Linked DNA regions of Homo sapiens: regions 2, 3 and 4 are each reported to be linked to region 1. The links are microRNA targets in miRTarBase. Many come from high-throughput screens and were not tested one by one. Region 1 holds a microRNA gene; each other region holds the end of a gene's coding sequence.

Evidence for each region. The annotated mature microRNA hsa-miR-6744-3p reads GGGCCUCUCUUGUCAUCCUGCAG and lies in region 1 at 1,245-1,267, shown strand. An mRNA with a match to its seed (bases 2 to 7 or 8) in the 3' UTR can be bound and repressed. Matches are read on the target gene's strand: a 7mer-m8 pairs with bases 2 to 8, a 7mer-A1 pairs with bases 2 to 7 and ends in A, and an 8mer does both.
Region 2: the mRNA of NIPAL1 is a reported target of hsa-miR-6744-3p. Seed matches in the 3' UTR shown: 7mer-A1 at 710-716, 8mer at 1,059-1,066 and 7mer-A1 at 1,104-1,110.
Region 3: the mRNA of TMEM67 is a reported target of hsa-miR-6744-3p. Seed matches in the 3' UTR shown: 7mer-A1 at 3,506-3,512.
Region 4: miRTarBase lists C15orf40 as a target of hsa-miR-6744-3p. Seed matches in the 3' UTR shown: 7mer-A1 at 2,950-2,956.

The regions. Positions count from the first base shown.
Region 1 is chr11:1,255,404-1,259,599 of GRCh38, forward strand. MIR6744 (microRNA 6744) reads left to right here and starts at 1,202; the gene lies at 1,202-1,267. MUC5B (mucin 5B, oligomeric mucus/gel-forming) reads left to right here. Exons shown (of 49, transcript NM_002458.3): 37 at 1-155; 38 at 753-822; 39 at 1,268-1,368; 40 at 1,837-1,868; 41 at 2,127-2,307; 42 at 2,696-2,800; 43 at 2,927-2,964; 44 at 3,539-3,658.
Region 2 is chr4:48,035,585-48,039,684 of GRCh38, forward strand. NIPAL1 (NIPA like domain containing 1) reads left to right here. Exons shown (of 6, transcript NM_207330.3): 6 at 1-4,100. The coding sequence ends at 588. Among named protein-coding and RNA genes, the nearest start is that of NIPAL1, 21 kb to the left of the region's middle. RefSeq lists enhancers at 1,089-1,348, 1,369-1,428.
Region 3 is chr8:93,816,103-93,820,202 of GRCh38, reverse strand. TMEM67 (transmembrane protein 67) reads right to left here. Exons shown (of 28, transcript NM_153704.6): 28 at 2,082-3,831. The coding sequence ends at 3,751. Among named protein-coding and RNA genes, the nearest start is that of TMEM67, 63 kb to the right of the region's middle.
Region 4 is chr15:83,002,234-83,006,333 of GRCh38, reverse strand. C15orf40 (chromosome 15 open reading frame 40) reads left to right here. Exons shown (of 4, transcript NM_144597.3): 4 at 642-4,100. The coding sequence ends at 737. Among named protein-coding and RNA genes, the nearest start is that of C15orf40, 7.4 kb to the left of the region's middle.

The DNA.
Region 1 (4,196 bases):
CCTTGTGCCCCCGGGCCCATTCTTCAACGCCTGCATCAGCGACCACTGCAGGGGCCGCCTTGAGGTGCCCTGCCAGAGCCTGGAGGCTTACGCAGAGCTCTGCCGCGCCCGGGGAGTGTGCAGTGACTGGCGAGGTGCAACCGGTGGCCTGTGCGGTGAGTGGGGGCGGCCCCGGGCCCCCCAGACCCCTCGGCCTCTCTGAGTGTCCTGTGCGGTGAGTGGGGGCGGCCCCGGGCCCCCCAGACCCCTCGGCCTCTCTGAGTGTCCTGTGCGGTGAGTGGGGGCGGCCCCGGGCCCCCCAGACCCCTCGGCCTCTCTGAGTGTCCTGTGCGGTGAGTGGGGGCGGCCCCGGGCCCCCCAGACCCCTCGGCCTCTCTGAGTGTCCTGTGCGGTGAGTGGGGGCGGCCCCGGGCCCCCCAGACCCCTCGGCCTCTCTGAGTGTCCTGTGCGGTGAGTGGGGGCGGCCCCGGGCCCCCCAGACCCCTCGGCCTCTCTGAGTGTCCTGTGCGGTGAGTGGGGGCGGCCCCGGGCCCCCCAGACCCCTCGGCCTCTCTGAGTGTCCTGTGCGGTGAGTGGGGGCGGCCCCGGGCCCCCCAGACCCCTCGGCCTCTCTGAGTGTCCTGTGCGGTGAGTGGGGGCGGCCCCGGGCCCCCCAGACTCCTCGGCCTCTCTGAGTGTCCTGTGCGGTGATTGGGGGCGGCCCTGGGCCCCCCCAACCCCTTGGCTTGTCTGACACCTCTCTGTGCCCACAGACCTCACCTGCCCACCCACCAAAGTGTACAAGCCATGCGGCCCCATACAGCCTGCCACCTGCAACTCTAGGTAAGTACAGGGATGGCTGGTGCCTTCCCTGCCACCCAGGCCTGCCTGACCGGTCTGGGGGAGCAGGAGGAGGCCAGAGGGTGTCCCACTGTGGGCCACAGATCTCTGGGGTGCCCGAGCCCAGGACTCCTTGGAAAACATCCCCTGCTGCTCCCAGATGCCTTAGAGACAGAGTCAGGCAGGGGGCGCATCCCTGGCCACGCCTGGCCCCGCATCCCCACCTGGCCCCGCCACCGAGCCCCACCCATCCCCGCCCATACTTAGCCCCGCCCACCCCCACCCCAGCCCCACCCGTCCCCGCCCCCAGCCCCGCCCACCCTGAGCCCCGCACTCCACCCATTCATCTCCTTCCCTGCTCCCCACTGCCCATCCTGGGGACTCACGTGGATGACAGTGGAGGCCTCCTGGATCTCTAGGTCTCAGGGCCTCTCTTGTCATCCTGCAGGAACCAGAGCCCACAGCTGGAGGGGATGGCGGAGGGCTGCTTCTGCCCTGAGGACCAGATCCTCTTCAACGCACACATGGGCATCTGCGTGCAGGCCTGCCGTAAGCTCCGCCACCTGTGGCGGGATACGACCCTGGGCCCGACCCAAGCACACACAGGGTGGGAGGAGCCGCCCAGGACCATGATGTGCTCTCCCCTCTCCCCAGCTGACCCCCGTGACCTGTTCTGCCCCACCAGAGCATGGGATGGCCCCAGAGTGGCCCTGAACCCTGCAGAGCCCCCACGGTCCCCTGAAGCCCCACAGGGAGGCTCTGTCCTTGAGTGATCCTGTGATGGTCCCTCCCCTGAGCCCTGCCTCCCACCACCATGGACGAGGCTTCCATGCACTGACAGCTGGGCTCACGGTGCCCTGGCCTGAGCTCCAGCCACATCTGACACCCCAAAAGTTCTCCAGGGCCTTCCATCCCGGGGGGAAGCAGGCTCCAGGCCTGAGAGCACCTCCCATGGCCAGAGGCCCCTCCGCCTGCAAACTCAGCACCCTCCGTGATGCCATGCTGTTTTCTTTCCAGCCTGCGTGGGACCCGATGGGTTTCCTAAATTTGTGAGTGGCTCCACCCCCACCTGCCCTACCCCACCCTCTCGCGAGCTGAGGGAGGGAGGGAAGGAGCATCCCCATCCCACAGGGCAGCTGTGGGGCGCCCGAGTGTGACGTGGACGTGCCAGTGGCTGGTGTGCGCTTCCTGCCCCATCACTCTGGGCCACTCGGGTACCAGCCCGAGGGAGGGGGTGGCTGGACAGATGCCCAGGGTTGACCTGTGTCTGTCCAGGAGCCCTCAGGGACCCCCTTGATCCATTCCAGCCCGGGGAGCGGTGGGTCAGCAACTGCCAGTCCTGCGTGTGTGACGAGGGTTCAGTGTCGGTGCAGTGCAAGCCCCTGCCCTGTGACGCCCAGGGTCAGCCCCCGCCGTGCAACCGTCCCGGCTTCGTAACCGTGACCAGGCCCCGGGCCGAGAACCCCTGCTGCCCCGAGACGGTGTGCGGTAAGACGCTGCAGAGCAGAGGTGCCCGGCATAGGGTGAGGGGGGACAGAGCCGGTGCCCACCAGGGGCCTGTGGGTTGGGCACAGGAGAGCAGAGGAGAGCCACTGTGTCCTGGCGTGACCGCGGCAGGACCACTCGGCAGAGATGGCCTCCAGGTGCTTCATTCTCCTCCTAACGATGAGGCTGGTGACCTCTGGCCTGCCCAGGAGTGGCCCAGGGACGTGGGAAGCAGCGGGGAGGTGGCCAAGCAAGGGGCCTGGAGGGAGCCCCCAGGGGCTGTGAAGCGGTCAGGTCCTCGGGGAAAAGCACGCCTGCGACTTACTCTGGGAACAAGTGGTCGGGAGGAGGAGTGAGCAGCGCCCAGACAGTGGCCTCCATCCTCCCGCAGTGTGCAACACAACCACCTGCCCCCAGAGCCTGCCTGTGTGCCCGCCAGGGCAGGAGTCCATCTGCACCCAGGAGGAGGGCGACTGCTGTCCCACCTTCCGCTGCAGTGAGCGGGGCTGGGGCCGGGCTCCTGGGTGGCCTCTTGCTGGGGGTGGGGGAGTGCAGGATGGTGGGGGCGCTGGAGCACATGCTCCCCACCACTTGTCGAGGGCTTAGCTCCCTTTCCTTCCAGGACCTCAGCTGTGTTCGTACAATGGCACCTTCTACGGGGTAAGGGCACAGCAGTGGGTGGGTGTGGCCCTGGGGCCTGAACATGTGTGTGGGATGCCCCGGGGCTCTCTGAGCCCCACTCCTTGTCTTGACATTCCTGCCCTGAGGGCCGATCCGCACAGGGGCCCTGGACACGTCAGAGCTGGGACATGCTTGGGACTCAGGGGCACCTTACGTCGACAGCCATGAGCTCCACAACTGCTGCCTCTGAGAGGTCCCTTCAGGGGCTCCCAGCAACAGCCTGGGGGCAGCACACACTGGCCTGGGGTCCCCGCCTGCCCGCCCAGATTCCTACCCGCCCGGATTCCTGCCTGCCAGATTCCTGCCCCCATGGGGTCTCTGCCCACCCAGATTCCTGCCCACATGGGGTCTCTGCCTGCCCAGATTCCCTGCCCACCTGTGGTCCCTGTGTGCATCAGCTCCCTGCCTGCCTGGGTCCATGCTCAGCCAGGGGTGCATCTATGCTCCATCTGAGGAAGGAACAACTCCCTGCAGGCCCCATTGGGTCATGGGGAGGGGTCCTGGCCCTGTTGCCCCACCAGTGCCCTCAGTGCCACCCTCCCACCCCTTGCAGGTTGGTGCAACCTTCCCAGGCGCCCTTCCCTGCCACATGTGTACCTGCCTCTCTGGGGACACCCAGGACCCAACGGTGCAATGTCAGGAGGATGCCTGCAACAATACTACCTGTCCCCAGGTGAGACCCGAGGCACCTGCCCCCAGGTGAGCCCCCGAGGCACCTGCCCCCAAGTGAGACCCGAGGCACCTGCCCCCAGGTGAGACCTGAGTCACCCGCCCCCAGGTGAGCCCCCGAGGCACCTGCCCCCAGGTGAGTCCCTGAGGCACTTGCCCCCAAGTGAGACCCGAGGCACCTGCCCCCAGGTGAGACCCGAGGCACCTGCCCCCAGGTGAGACCTGAGTCACCTGCCCCCAGGTGAGCCACCAAGGCACCTGCCCCCAAGTGAGACCCGAGGCACCTGCCCCCAGGTGAGCCCACAGCTGCTGGGCAGACCCAGCCCTGAGTCACTTATCCTGGCTCCCTGGGGTTCTCTAGCTCAGCCATTGCTGGGGTCTTGTTTGTTTCCAAAGGGAGGGTATGAAGTAGGAGGATAACTGAGGGGGTCTGGGGGTGGGACAGGACCTGCAGGCTGCTGGGGACAGGGGCTGAGGTCAGGTTCCAGGAAGGCAGGGGTAGGCAGAGAGAAGGTGCTGGAAACTGGGGTGAGGCTGAGCCG
Region 2 (4,100 bases), not on the chromosome of region 1:
ATAACTGTGATCTCCTTGGTGCTGATTTTGATTGTGGCTCCCAAGAAAGGACAGACCAATATATTGGTTTATATTTCAATCTGTTCCTTGATTGGAGCGTTTTCAGTTTCTTCTGTGAAAGGCCTGGGAATTGCCATTAAGGAGCTGATAGAATGGAAGCCAGTTTACAAACATCCGCTGGTCTTTGTTTTGCTGGCTGTACTTGTGCTTTCAGTAACTACACAGATTAACTATCTCAACAAGGCACTGGACACCTTTAATACCTCTCTTGTGACACCCATTTATTATGTATTCTTCACATCCATGGTAGTGACTTGCTCTGCCATCTTATTCCAAGAGTGGTATGGCATGACAGCTGGAGATATCATTGGGACCCTGAGTGGATTCTTCACTATTATCATTGGCATCTTCCTTCTACATGCTTTTAAAAATACTGACATTACTTGGAGTGAGCTTACATCCACTGCTAAGAAAGAAGCCGTCTCTCTGAATGTCAATGAAAACAATTATGTTTTACTAGAGAACTTGGAGTGTTCAGCCCCAGGATACAATGATGACGTTACCTTGTTTAGTAGAACTGATGACTGAAGTCTCTAGAAACACTGAGTTTTAACCAATATGAGACACACGAAGAGGAAAATGAATGCTTGCTTCTTGGAAGAACTGCTAGGAAAGTTAGCATTTTTGCAGTTCTAACTAATTTAGATGTGAGGCCAAGTAAAAATGCCATTTTTTTGGCCATTGAATTTGAAAATCAAATTGATTATCCTCCAGAATCTCTACAAACTTTGAAATACTCTCTAAGGATCAAAGAAGTCAAAGAGCTATGTGTGTCTCAGAATAATCTCCTTCTTCTGGTCACAGTATCTTTGTCTCTGCCAGGTGGCTCTTCATTTCTTTGGTAGCTATTTTTAGACTTACAGTCATTCACCAATATACAGTTAGCAGTGTTCTGATAGACACAGTATCAGTCATATTCTCCGTTGAGTCATAATTTCAAACTCAACAAGATTTCAGAAAGGTATAATCATGTAATTTCTCATATTAAAACTGAGAAGAGAGGCCAGGCATGGTGGTTCACACCTGTAATCCTAGCAGTTTGGGAGGCCAAGGCGGACAGATCACTTGAGCTCAGGAGTTCGAGACCACCTTGGGCCACAAGGCGAGACCCTGTCTCTACAAAAAATACAAAAATTAGCCAGGCGTGGTGGCACATGCCTGTAGTTCCAGCCACCCGGGAGCCTGAGGTGGGAGGATTGCTTGAGTCTGCGAGGTTGGGGCTGCCGTGAGCCCAGATTGCGCCATTGTGCTCCAGCCTGGGTGACAAAGCAAGGCCCTGTCTCAAAAAAGAAGAAGAGAAAGGGCCAGGGGCTTTTGCTTTAAAAAACTTTTTTTAAAACAGAAGTGAAACCACGGGTGCTTTGTTCTTCCTTCTGCACCTCCTTCTTAAACTAGATAGCTAATTAGTTATTTTAAGAAAAAAGAAATTTAAAAAAAAGCCTGCTTTATTTGTTAGTGGGCTAGAATACACAAGACATACCCACCCATGAAGAGTTTATGAATTGTAACTTATTGACATTATCATAGGAATTTACTACCAGTTAAAGAGGGAGAACGGAGGAAGAGAAAAATACTTCAGATAAAGGAAAAAGTTTTCTTCTCACAAAAACACAGACACGTGATTGTTTTCACAGGTTCCATTAATTAACTCAGGTCTGGAAGACATAGGACAAAATGGAGTTTCTGAAGAAGTCCAGGTGAATTCAGCTTTGGAGTCACTTATGTTCATTTTTTTTCCTTTTCTTTTACTATTATCCTAAAGGTTATTTTTCTTGTTGATATAGAGATTTTTGTAAAAGATTGCTACATTATTTCAGGATTATATCCTACATTTCGATTGCTCTCAAATGTTTTATCCCTAAAGAGTGAGTTTTCCACAGACTGTTTGGAAGCAACTAGAAAAATCTTTGTGAAAAATCTGAACAAATTATCATAATGGCTCTCTTGAAATTTTGCACTTTCACCCTTATTAAGGAAATTATAATTAGTTACTAACCTTTAAAAATAGATATATTCTAATAGGATAGAAAGTTAACTTCCTGGCAAACAAAATACTAAGATCTCAGGGGCTACTGCAGGAAAATACCTTTTTCGCACATTAAAATGTTTATAAAATTTTCCCCTCTCATTTCAAATGCATGGCAGGAATAACATTTTTGGTGGTCTTTAATGTGATGGACAGATTTACTGTCACTTATTGATTTTATGGAAAATAAATTGGCTATCTTATTTTTATAACAATCTTATTTTTCTCAAAACAAAAATCCTAACCAAAAAGTTGTCATTAAAAAAAAAAAAATTCAGGTAGACTGAATGTTTTTCTGCTCTAACCTTAAATGTTATTAGGTTTGGTTTTTGTTTCTAAGCTACTTCAAGACTACCTGAGGTAATAATGGTAAACTTTATTATTCAGAATTCGATTAAACTAACTTCAGCATTTCCACAGTTCTATTAAACAATGACTGATGTTCACAATGACAACCTACCTGAGATGGCTGCAAGGCCCTAATGTTCCATTATACATTATAGTCTTTTCAGCATAGTTTAGTGTTGAGTGCAATTCTAATGCATTCTACGTTTTTGAAAATCGATAATCCATGGAAGGTCCATGGGTTGATACCTCAGGTCAAAAATGTGTTTACTCTGTTGATTGCTGTTTCACTTTACTTGTATATCAGATATATAAGCTATGAACACAAGTTTGTAGTAAAAGTATCTTCTGTCTGGGCAATGGCTCACACCTGTAATTCCAACACTTTGGGGGGCTCAGGTGGGAGGATTTCTAGTCCCCAGGAGTTTGAGACCAGCCTGGGCAATAAACTAGACCCCATGTCTCTAAAAAATGTAAAAAACATCAAGAGGCTGAGTCAGGAGGATCATTTGAGCTTAGGAGTTCAAGGCTGCAGTAAGTTATGATTGTGCCACTGCATTCCAGCCTGGGTGACAAGAGTGAGACCCTGACCCAAAAAAGTATCTTCTGATAAAGTGGCATTTGAAAATTGCAGAAATTTTAATATTTTTTCTTTTAATATTAAGAACTTTATTGATCTCTCTAGGACACCTTGGTGAGGAAATTAATGGCACTTTTCTTGACATCCAACCTGGGACTCTGGTGATTCTGTGTTCTGGCGAATTTAAGTTTCAGACATTTCTTTGTGTCACCTTTTACAAGGTGTTTGCCCTTGGTACGTTATGACCAGGTCAAAGGTTCCCAAACACAAGGCTCATTGTGTACCCTGGACAGGAAATTGAACTGATGTTGACATGTATGCATGCCCAGGAGGAAGACTGGGAAAGATTTAATGAGTTGAAGTATGCTGAGAAACAATGAAATATTTGAAAACTGTCTACATAAAAGTTACTGATGCACATGCATTAAAAAAAAAAATGTTGTTGCAAATCTAACACTAAAAAATTTTTGACTGGGTGCAGTGGCTCACACCTGTAATCCCAGCACTTTGGGAGGCTGAGGCGGGTAGATCACAAGGACAGGAGTTCAAGACCAGCCTGGCCAACATGGTGAAACCCCGTCTCTACTAAAAATACAAAAATTAGCCAGGCATGGTTGCGGGTGCCTATAATCCCAACTACCCCGGAGGCTGAGGCAGGGAATTGCTTGAAGCAAGGAGGGGCAGGTTGCAGTGAGCCAAGATTGTGCCACCACACTCCAGCCTGGGTAACAGCAAGACTCCGTCTCAAAAAAAAAAAAAATTCCCAAATAGGAAGATATTTTCTAAGGAAGAATAAAATGCTGGACCCCTATATTCAGACTATTAGTCTTAACTGGTAGTTTATGTATATATTTTAATACTTTGTCATCATGTACATATCTTAAGATTTATTATGTGAATATCTGCATGTGTGTTATTAAGGATTACAAAGTTGTGCTCACACAGGACAAATGGAAAGATTTTCCTACTTCTGTAAAGATAAGTTTCATTATACTTTTGTCTTACAATTTTATTCTTAGGTCAATGGTTATTTATTATAAGTTCAGATTGCACAATTTTCATAAGACCCTTTGGATTTAGCACATGAAA
Region 3 (4,100 bases), not on the chromosome of region 1:
CCATGCACAGCCATGGGGGAAAGCACCAGTCAGGAGGCAGGAGCACCAGGAGCCAGGGCAGAGCCTGGGTGCTTACTGGAGTTTCTGAGGAAATGGCAAGGCAGGGTGGGGTCAACAGTTTGGGATCGGCTCGTTGGAATAATTTCAGTGTGCTCTAAACTACAGAGACTATCCCTAGTTGCCCGTTACCTGGTCCTGGGATGATTTAAGGAAGAGGAACATTGCCTCCTAGGGTTTCAGGGCCAGACAGAGGAGGTGTGGCTCAGGTCTATAGTTTGTATATCAAAGGTATGCTCCCACCTGAGTTCTTTGCTGTCTAAAAGAACTGGGGAGCCCCAGGAGGGACAATCACTCCCCAGAAGGGAAGGTTTCTTAAAATGACAAAACATCTTATACAGACAACTTTTAAAATATAAACAGTACATGTACTCTGATTCAAACTGCCCGTAGTGCCCCAAACTGCCATGTGCTGCTTTGTCTCTGAGCACATACTGTTCCATGCTTTGGTTGCACTTGTTTTTTTTTGTTTATCTTAAAATCTTAGATCAAATCCACTTCTCTGAGGTCAAAGCCCTGATGACCCAGAAGTACAGTTAAGAGCTTTCCTTATATCACACCCCGGTACTGCAGCACGTTTCATATTGCTGTAATTACTGGTTAATTTACCTCTTTCTCTTACAAATTATAAGACCCTTCTGAGGGGCTGGGGAGTGGGAAGAGGTAGAAACATTGTTGGAATGAATGAGCAAATGAAAAAAACCCTCCCTCCCAGAGACAATACTCCACTCTTCCTGTTCTCTCCACCCTCTATCACAAACTGTGTCTCCCACAGGGGTGTTGTCTTCTTTTATGTTTTACATCTATCGGTGACCTCTATCTGGGCCTCTTCCTGGCAGAGCTGGGGGTGGCTGAGGAAGAAGGCAGGCTCAGAATTTTCATTGGTCAGTTATTGAGATCAGTAATCTGAGTTTTAATATCATATTATTAATTTATTAGCAAGAAAAAAATATATTTTGGGGCAGATATTTTAAACTAAAAATAAAAATTCCAGCATTCATAGTTTACTCAATGTTAAAAGCACATTCTAAGAAACTAATCCTGGCCATGTGTAGTGGCTGACACCTGTAATCCCAGCACTTTTGGAGGCCGAGGTGGGTGAATCTCTCGATCAGGAGTTCAAGACTAGCCTGGGCAACATGGTGAACCCTTGTCTCTACAAAAAAAATACAAAAAATTAGCTGGGCATGGTGGTGCACACCTGTTGTTCCAGCTACTTGGGAGGCTGAGGTGGAGGACTGCTTGAGCCTAGGAGGCAGAGGTTAGAGTGGGCCAAAATCGTGCCACTGCATTCCAACCTGGGTGATAAGAGTGAGACCCCATCTCTCTCTCTCTGTCTCACACACACACACCCACGAAACTAATCCTTACAACAAGTGGTAAGCAAAGGATATTATTTTCATTGCAGAGATGTAGAATGAAGCTCAATGATGGCAAATGACTTAGTTCAAGATACCAAAGCTTATGAGTGATGGGCAAAATTCTAATTTGAATCCAGGGCTTCTTTTGCTAAATTTGGAGCACTTTCCATTAAGCCACACTCCTCACTGCTCCTTGACTTACAGTTATTTCCCCTCAGCTTATATTTGTCAATATTTACAAAAAAAACACATGCTTCATGCTTGTAAGTGCTGAGTTAATGATCATTTTGAATGTTCCTCAATGTAGGTCATCAGCAAAGCCTTCTGAAAAGGCAGTTAGGACAGCAATGCCAGAGAAGGAAGCATTTACAAATCTCCCATAACAGAGGCACTGGTCTACAGAAGTATTTTAGGGGCCTGTATGTTTCTAAGGAGCATCCAAAGTACACAACAGCTTATAAAGAACCTCTCTAGGTTTTGTTTCATTATGAAATGAAGAGAAATCAAATGTTTCTAGAAAATCAGTAAAATCAGGGATATAAGAGTCAAAGTATAGTGATTGGGTACTACAGAAATAGACAAAGGGTAATGAATCTAGTGAATAATTATGCACATGATCAGGAAATGTAAATTGTGACAATGTGAACAAAGGAGTCGACAGTGTATGAAAATCTGAACACATTTTTATGCACCTAGCCAAAATAAAAATATCATACAAAATTTAGAATGATTTTAAATGTTTTCTGTTTTAATTTATCAGCAAGTAAGCCAATTGATCCTTTATTGTGAAATTTAATACTTAAAAACTTTTGCACTAAAATTAACTTCTTCTATGTTGAATGATGGTTGAATTTCTTTCATATGCTTCTGAGTGAGTGGTTTTAAATATCCATGCCATATAAGTACATGTATTTATCTCTGCAGCTTTTATAAAGGCATTCCTGTACTGTGATCCTTCAGAAACTGCAGTTTCAAAGACTTCCTTTTCAGTCATCCTCAAGATTCAGGGAAATGTAAAAGATTCAACTTTGGCAATGGCTGGGACCTCTGCCCCAATAATGTTATATTCCTAAATGGTACTCCATCAGATATACATTAATGAAACAGAAAACAGAAATACCAAATGTTTTAGTATATATTTTCATCTGAGAAAATATAAATAATATTTATACAGTATTCCATTTTAAGTATTTACACAGCATTAACATAGAAAGCAGTGAGAAACATGATACATTTACAGTGTTTTGTTTTTGTTTTTTCTGAGACAGGGTCTTGCTCTGTCATCCTGGCTGGAGTGCAGTGGTGCTATCTGGCTCACTACAGCCTCCACCTCCTGGTTTCAAGCTATTCTCATGCCTCAGCCTCCCAAATAGCTGGGATTACAGGCCACCACATCCAACTAATTTTTGTATTTTTTGTAGAGATGGGGTTTTCCATGTTGGCCAGGCTGTTCTTGAACTCCTGACCTAAAGTGATCCACGTGCCTTGGCCTTCCAAAGTGCTGGGATTACAGGCGTAAGCCACAGCGCCCAGCCTTACTGTTTGTTATTTACAGTCTTTAAACGTAATTGAAAAGCAAAACTCTGGAAGAGAACTCTTAAAACATTAAGTAATTAAAATGTATAAAAAATGATATTGGGAAAAATGTCATACGTTATAACTTAATAAATGTAAACTATATTAGAAATGCAAATATATTTCATGGAAAGCGTATACTGACCTAATACAGGTATACAAAGGAATGAAAAGATATCATTTCATGAGATGCATATTAACCCAACAGTGAATTAATCCACTGCCAAAGAGGATGAGCAATTAGAATGATGCAAATTGAATCAGCAATAATACAATTTAAAATTTCTAAGTAAACTTGAAAATATCTTTCAACATTTATTTAACCATAAGCACACAAAACATGAAAATATCAAACTGAAAACTAGTCTTAAACTTGGAATCAAATTACTTTGTCAATGTGAGAAGATTCAGGCAGCTCTCAGTTTATAAAATAATCTACAGAGACAAATGATGGGGACTGTTTTAATTAGCATTAAAAAGTATTATGCTGAAAGCAACATTTAGATTTTTTTTGGCCTCACTGTCAGTATTAATTTATTATTTACTGCATTAAATACTACACACAATGGGAAAACAGTATTTTCTATTATATCAGGTTATATATTCCCAAGTTATAAAAATAAATCTTTCTGCAAATAAAAAACAAAAACAGAATAGTCTGCATTATAAGTTTTAAAAAATATGGCAAACTAACCTGATATCATGACTTTTTTTTGGCCATGATTATACTGAGTCTTTAAGTTATTTATTCAGGAAGTTAAATCAAAAATCTTTGATCCACCAATGTTTTGGATGCCAAATTCTTTTGTCCTACTGTATTACGGATATATCTAAAAATCTGGAAAATTAAAACAATTCAGAATGAAAAGAAATATAAACAGAATTAAATATGCACGTCGATTAAAATATCTAGATTAAATTAGCTAATTCTCTCAACTATTTTCATGTATCAGGTATCTGAATCCCATAGTGATACATAAAATTATTTCAAGATGATAATTTCTTTCATAGTTTCATAGTATGTTCCCATTTAGAGTAAATTCTTATGAATTAATAATACAAATTCTCTCATGTTCACAGAAATACACTTTAAAATATATAGAAAGG
Region 4 (4,100 bases), not on the chromosome of region 1:
TATATAAAATTGCAATATTTATTTTGGTATTTTAAAGATGATTTTCATTTTTAACTTAATTGCTTGAGACTAGAATATCATTTTTTAGATTTTTTTTTTTTTTGAGATGGAGTCTTGCTCTGTTGCCCAGGCTGGAGTGCAGTGGCGCGATCTCAGCTCACTGCAGCCTCTGCCTCCTGGGTTCCAGCGATTTTCCTGCCTCAGTCTCCTGAGTAGCTGGGATTACAGGCACATGCCACCATGCCCGGCTAATTTTTTGTATTTTTAGTACAGACGGGGTTTCACCATGTTGGTCAGGCTGGTCTTGAACTCCTGACCTCGTGATCTACCCACCTTGGCCTCCTAAAGTGCTGGGATTACAGGCGTGAGCCACCGCGCCTGGCCCATTTTTGAGATTTTAATGTCCAGCTTTTATTATAGAAATTGATGTATGAAGGTAAAAACCCTGGAGAGTTGTTAGTACTAACAAATGTTTAGTAACAAATGGTAGTAAGGAAGAATCTAAGAGATAGTCTTTGGTTAGACCAGAAGTAACCAAGAGAAAGCCATCAGGAGAGCCCATTATACAACGGAGGTCTGCTATCTCTAATAGCATTAGAATGTGCTAAACAGTAAAGTATGCTTTTTCTCTTTTGGTCCAGGGTGGTAAATCTCGTGAAAAGGTGGTGAAGCTTTTGGCTTCTACAACTCCAGAAGAGATCTTGGAGAAATTAAAAAAGGAAGCCAAAAAAACATAAAAGCAAGAAATGAGGCCGGGCGCAGTGGCTCATGCCTGTAATCCCAGCACTTTGGGAGGCCGTGGTGGGCGGATCACCTGAGGTCAGGAGTTCGAGACCAGCCTGACCAACATGGTGAAACCCCATCTCTACGAAAAATACAAAATTAGCCAGATGTGATGGCGCATGCCTGTAATCCCAGTTACTCAGGAGGCTGAGGCAGGAGAATCACTTGAACCTGGGGGGCGGAGGTTGCAGTAAGCCGAGATCGCGCCGTTGCACTCCAGCCTGGGCAACAAGAGTGAAACTCTCTCCCCCCGAAAAAAAAGAAATAAAAAATACATCCTTGAGAAACTTTTTTATTGCTAATGGTGAAGAGGCTGTTAAATAGAAAAATATACTACATGCACAGAAGAACATGGGGGACATATATATATGTATATATTCGAATAAGACTCCAAAAAGTAGAAATTTAAAAAGTGCTATACATTGCATCAGGTTCTAAAATCCCAAACCCCAAACAGCCTGGAACATGTTACTCTGATTTCATGGCGTTGTAAAATAACAGAGCTGGGAAGAATATTCAAGATGACCTGATTTAACACCTTTCATTCTGTTGGGGGGCCTTTGATTTCCTATATCCAGAAGTTGAGAGACTTACTCAAGATTGTACCATGCAAGCTGGCAACTAGAACCCAAATCCTTGGACTACTTGTTGAATGCAGTTTTTCTAGATTGTAAATTAAAAATCATATCTCCACAACGGTTCTGGAATTCTGGGGATTGCCTTCTAATCCAGTTTACAAGTGACAGAAAACCTGTTATGCTGCTTTGTAGTCTTACCTTAGATTTTTAAATGCTTATTTAAATGTAAAAAAAATTTTTTTTTTACATCTTTTAAAGACTATATTTACCATTTTGTTGAAAAAGTAAAGAAAAATCATGACTTGTAATTAAATGTGAATTATAATTTTTGAGAAGTCACTGAATTTTCATCTTCCTCTAATAACTTAAATAATCAGCAAATTCAGTAGTTTTTATGAATCTCCAAAGATCCTTAAAAGAAGAAAGAGGACTTGGAAGCTATTTTCAGTATTTGTAAAAGCTTGTCAGAAATTACATCTATATTAAAGTTTCAAAAGCTAATAATATATTTTTACATCTTCAGGTCAAGTTATAGTAATTTATTAAAGAAAATAAAATTAATTTCCTTTGCTGATCAGGAGAGCTGATCTGCAGTTGTGCGCTTTGTCCAGCAAGTACATGAGAAAGATGTATTGATGGACCAAATCATTAAAAACAAAATCCACAAGGAAGAACAATAATAAAAATTGCTGATGGTAGCTGGGCTTGGTGGCTCACGCCTGTAATCCCAGCGCTTTGGAAGGTTGAGGCAGGAGGAACACTTGAGCCCAGGAGTTTGAGACCAGCCTGGGCAACGAAGTGAGACCCTGTATCTGTCTCTGTCTCTTTCTTTATAGATAGATAGATATACATAGATAGATTTTATACATAGATATATATATTTATATGTAAGATTATATATAAGACCTCATATATAAGAAGTCCAGGCCGGGTGTGGTGGCTCATGCCTGTAATCCCAGCACTTTGGGAGGTCGAGGCGGGTGGATCACCTGAGGTTAGGAGTTTGAGACCAGCCCGGCCAACATAGTAAAACCCCATCTCTACTAAAAATATAAAAACTAGCCAGGCATGGTGGTGGGTGCCTGTAATCTCAGCTACTCGGGAGGCTGAGGCAGGAGAATTGCTTGAACCCAGGAGACGGAAGTTGCAGTGAGCCCACACGGTGCCACTGCACTCCAGCCTCGGCGACAAGAGTGAGACTCCGTCTCAAAAAGAAAGAAAAAATCCCAGACAGTGAAAGAGAAGCTACTCGTCTAGTACAACTCTTAACTTGTACCAAATAGGTATCAAGGGCAAGAAAAGGTGGCTTATGTGAGATCACAGTGCACATTAATGGCAGAGCTTGGTTTAAGCCCAGCTGCTTTGTCTTCTAAACTGTGCCATATACTGCCTGCAAATGTGCTTCTGTTTTACATGGTCTTAAGAGCTTTTCCCACTCTTTCTCAAGACCATTGCCATGTGTGCTGTAAAGCCGTTTTACTTGTGGATTTTACATGGATCACTGTTAGAATGTCATAAAATGATATCATAAAAGATCAACTTTCCTGGCCGGGCATGGTAGCTCACACCTGTAATCCCAGCACTTTGGGAGGCCAAGGCAGGTGGATCACCTGAGGTCGGGAATTCGAGACCAGCCTGACCAACATGGAGAAACCCCATCTCTACTAAAAATACAAAAAATTAGCTGGGCGTGGTGGCACATGCCTGTAATTGCAGCTACTCGGGAGGCTGAGGTAGGAGAATCGCTTGAACCCGGGAGTTGGAGGTTGCGGTGAGCTGAGATCGTGCCATTGCACTCTAGCCTGGGCAAAAGGAGCGAAACTCCATCTCAAAAAAAAAAAAAAAAAAAAAGGATCAACTTTTGGTCAGGCGTGTTGGCTTACGCCTGTAATTCCAGCGCTTTGGGAGGCCGAGGCAGGCAGATCACGAGGTCAGGAGTTCAAGATCACCCTGGCCAACATGGTGAAACCCCGTCTCTACTAAAAATACAAAAGTTACCTGGGCATAGTGGCAGATGCTTGTAATCCCAGCTACTCGGGAGGCTGAGGCAGGAGAATTGCTTGTGAACCGGGACCCTGGAGGCAGAGGTTGCAGTGAGCCAAGATCGCACAACTGCGAACTGCGCTCCAGCGTGGGCTGCAGAGGCAGACTCCGTCTCAAGAAAAAAAAAAATCAGCTTTCTTTCCTTCCCCTGAATCTTCTGCAGTGCCAGTTTCATCCTCAGGCCCACTTGTTTCATGTAGACAAAAGGCCAACCAGGTTTCATATTCACGTATCAACCCCTGCAGTAGGAGAAAAGGCCACTCCTAGGAGCTCTGGTATTTTCCAGAAGCTTTCAGTCAGCCTTCCCTTGTATCAGCCCAAATCAAGTCACATGAAATTTCTAAGCCAGCCCCTGTGATCAGGGAATGCCATTCTATAACACAAGTTCCCTAAAGCAGTAACTATAGAAGAAAGAATTACCCTAATTGTTTCAGGCCAATTAAGGCCCATCCTAGAGGTGGAAATGGGGTCAGCATACTCAGAAGCAAAGAAGTAGAGAGAGTTGGATACCTGAATAAAATTGGGAAAAGTTACAAAGAGAGGAATGGATGCTGGAGAGGAACCACCAGTTTCTACTACGATAACCTATTTACTTCATTTTAAACGGTGATATTTTAAACGTGGGAACATTTTGCCTAGTGAGTTTTTTTCTTTGAGAAACGTAGCAGTATCTTGTAACAAAGAAGATATGGGGAC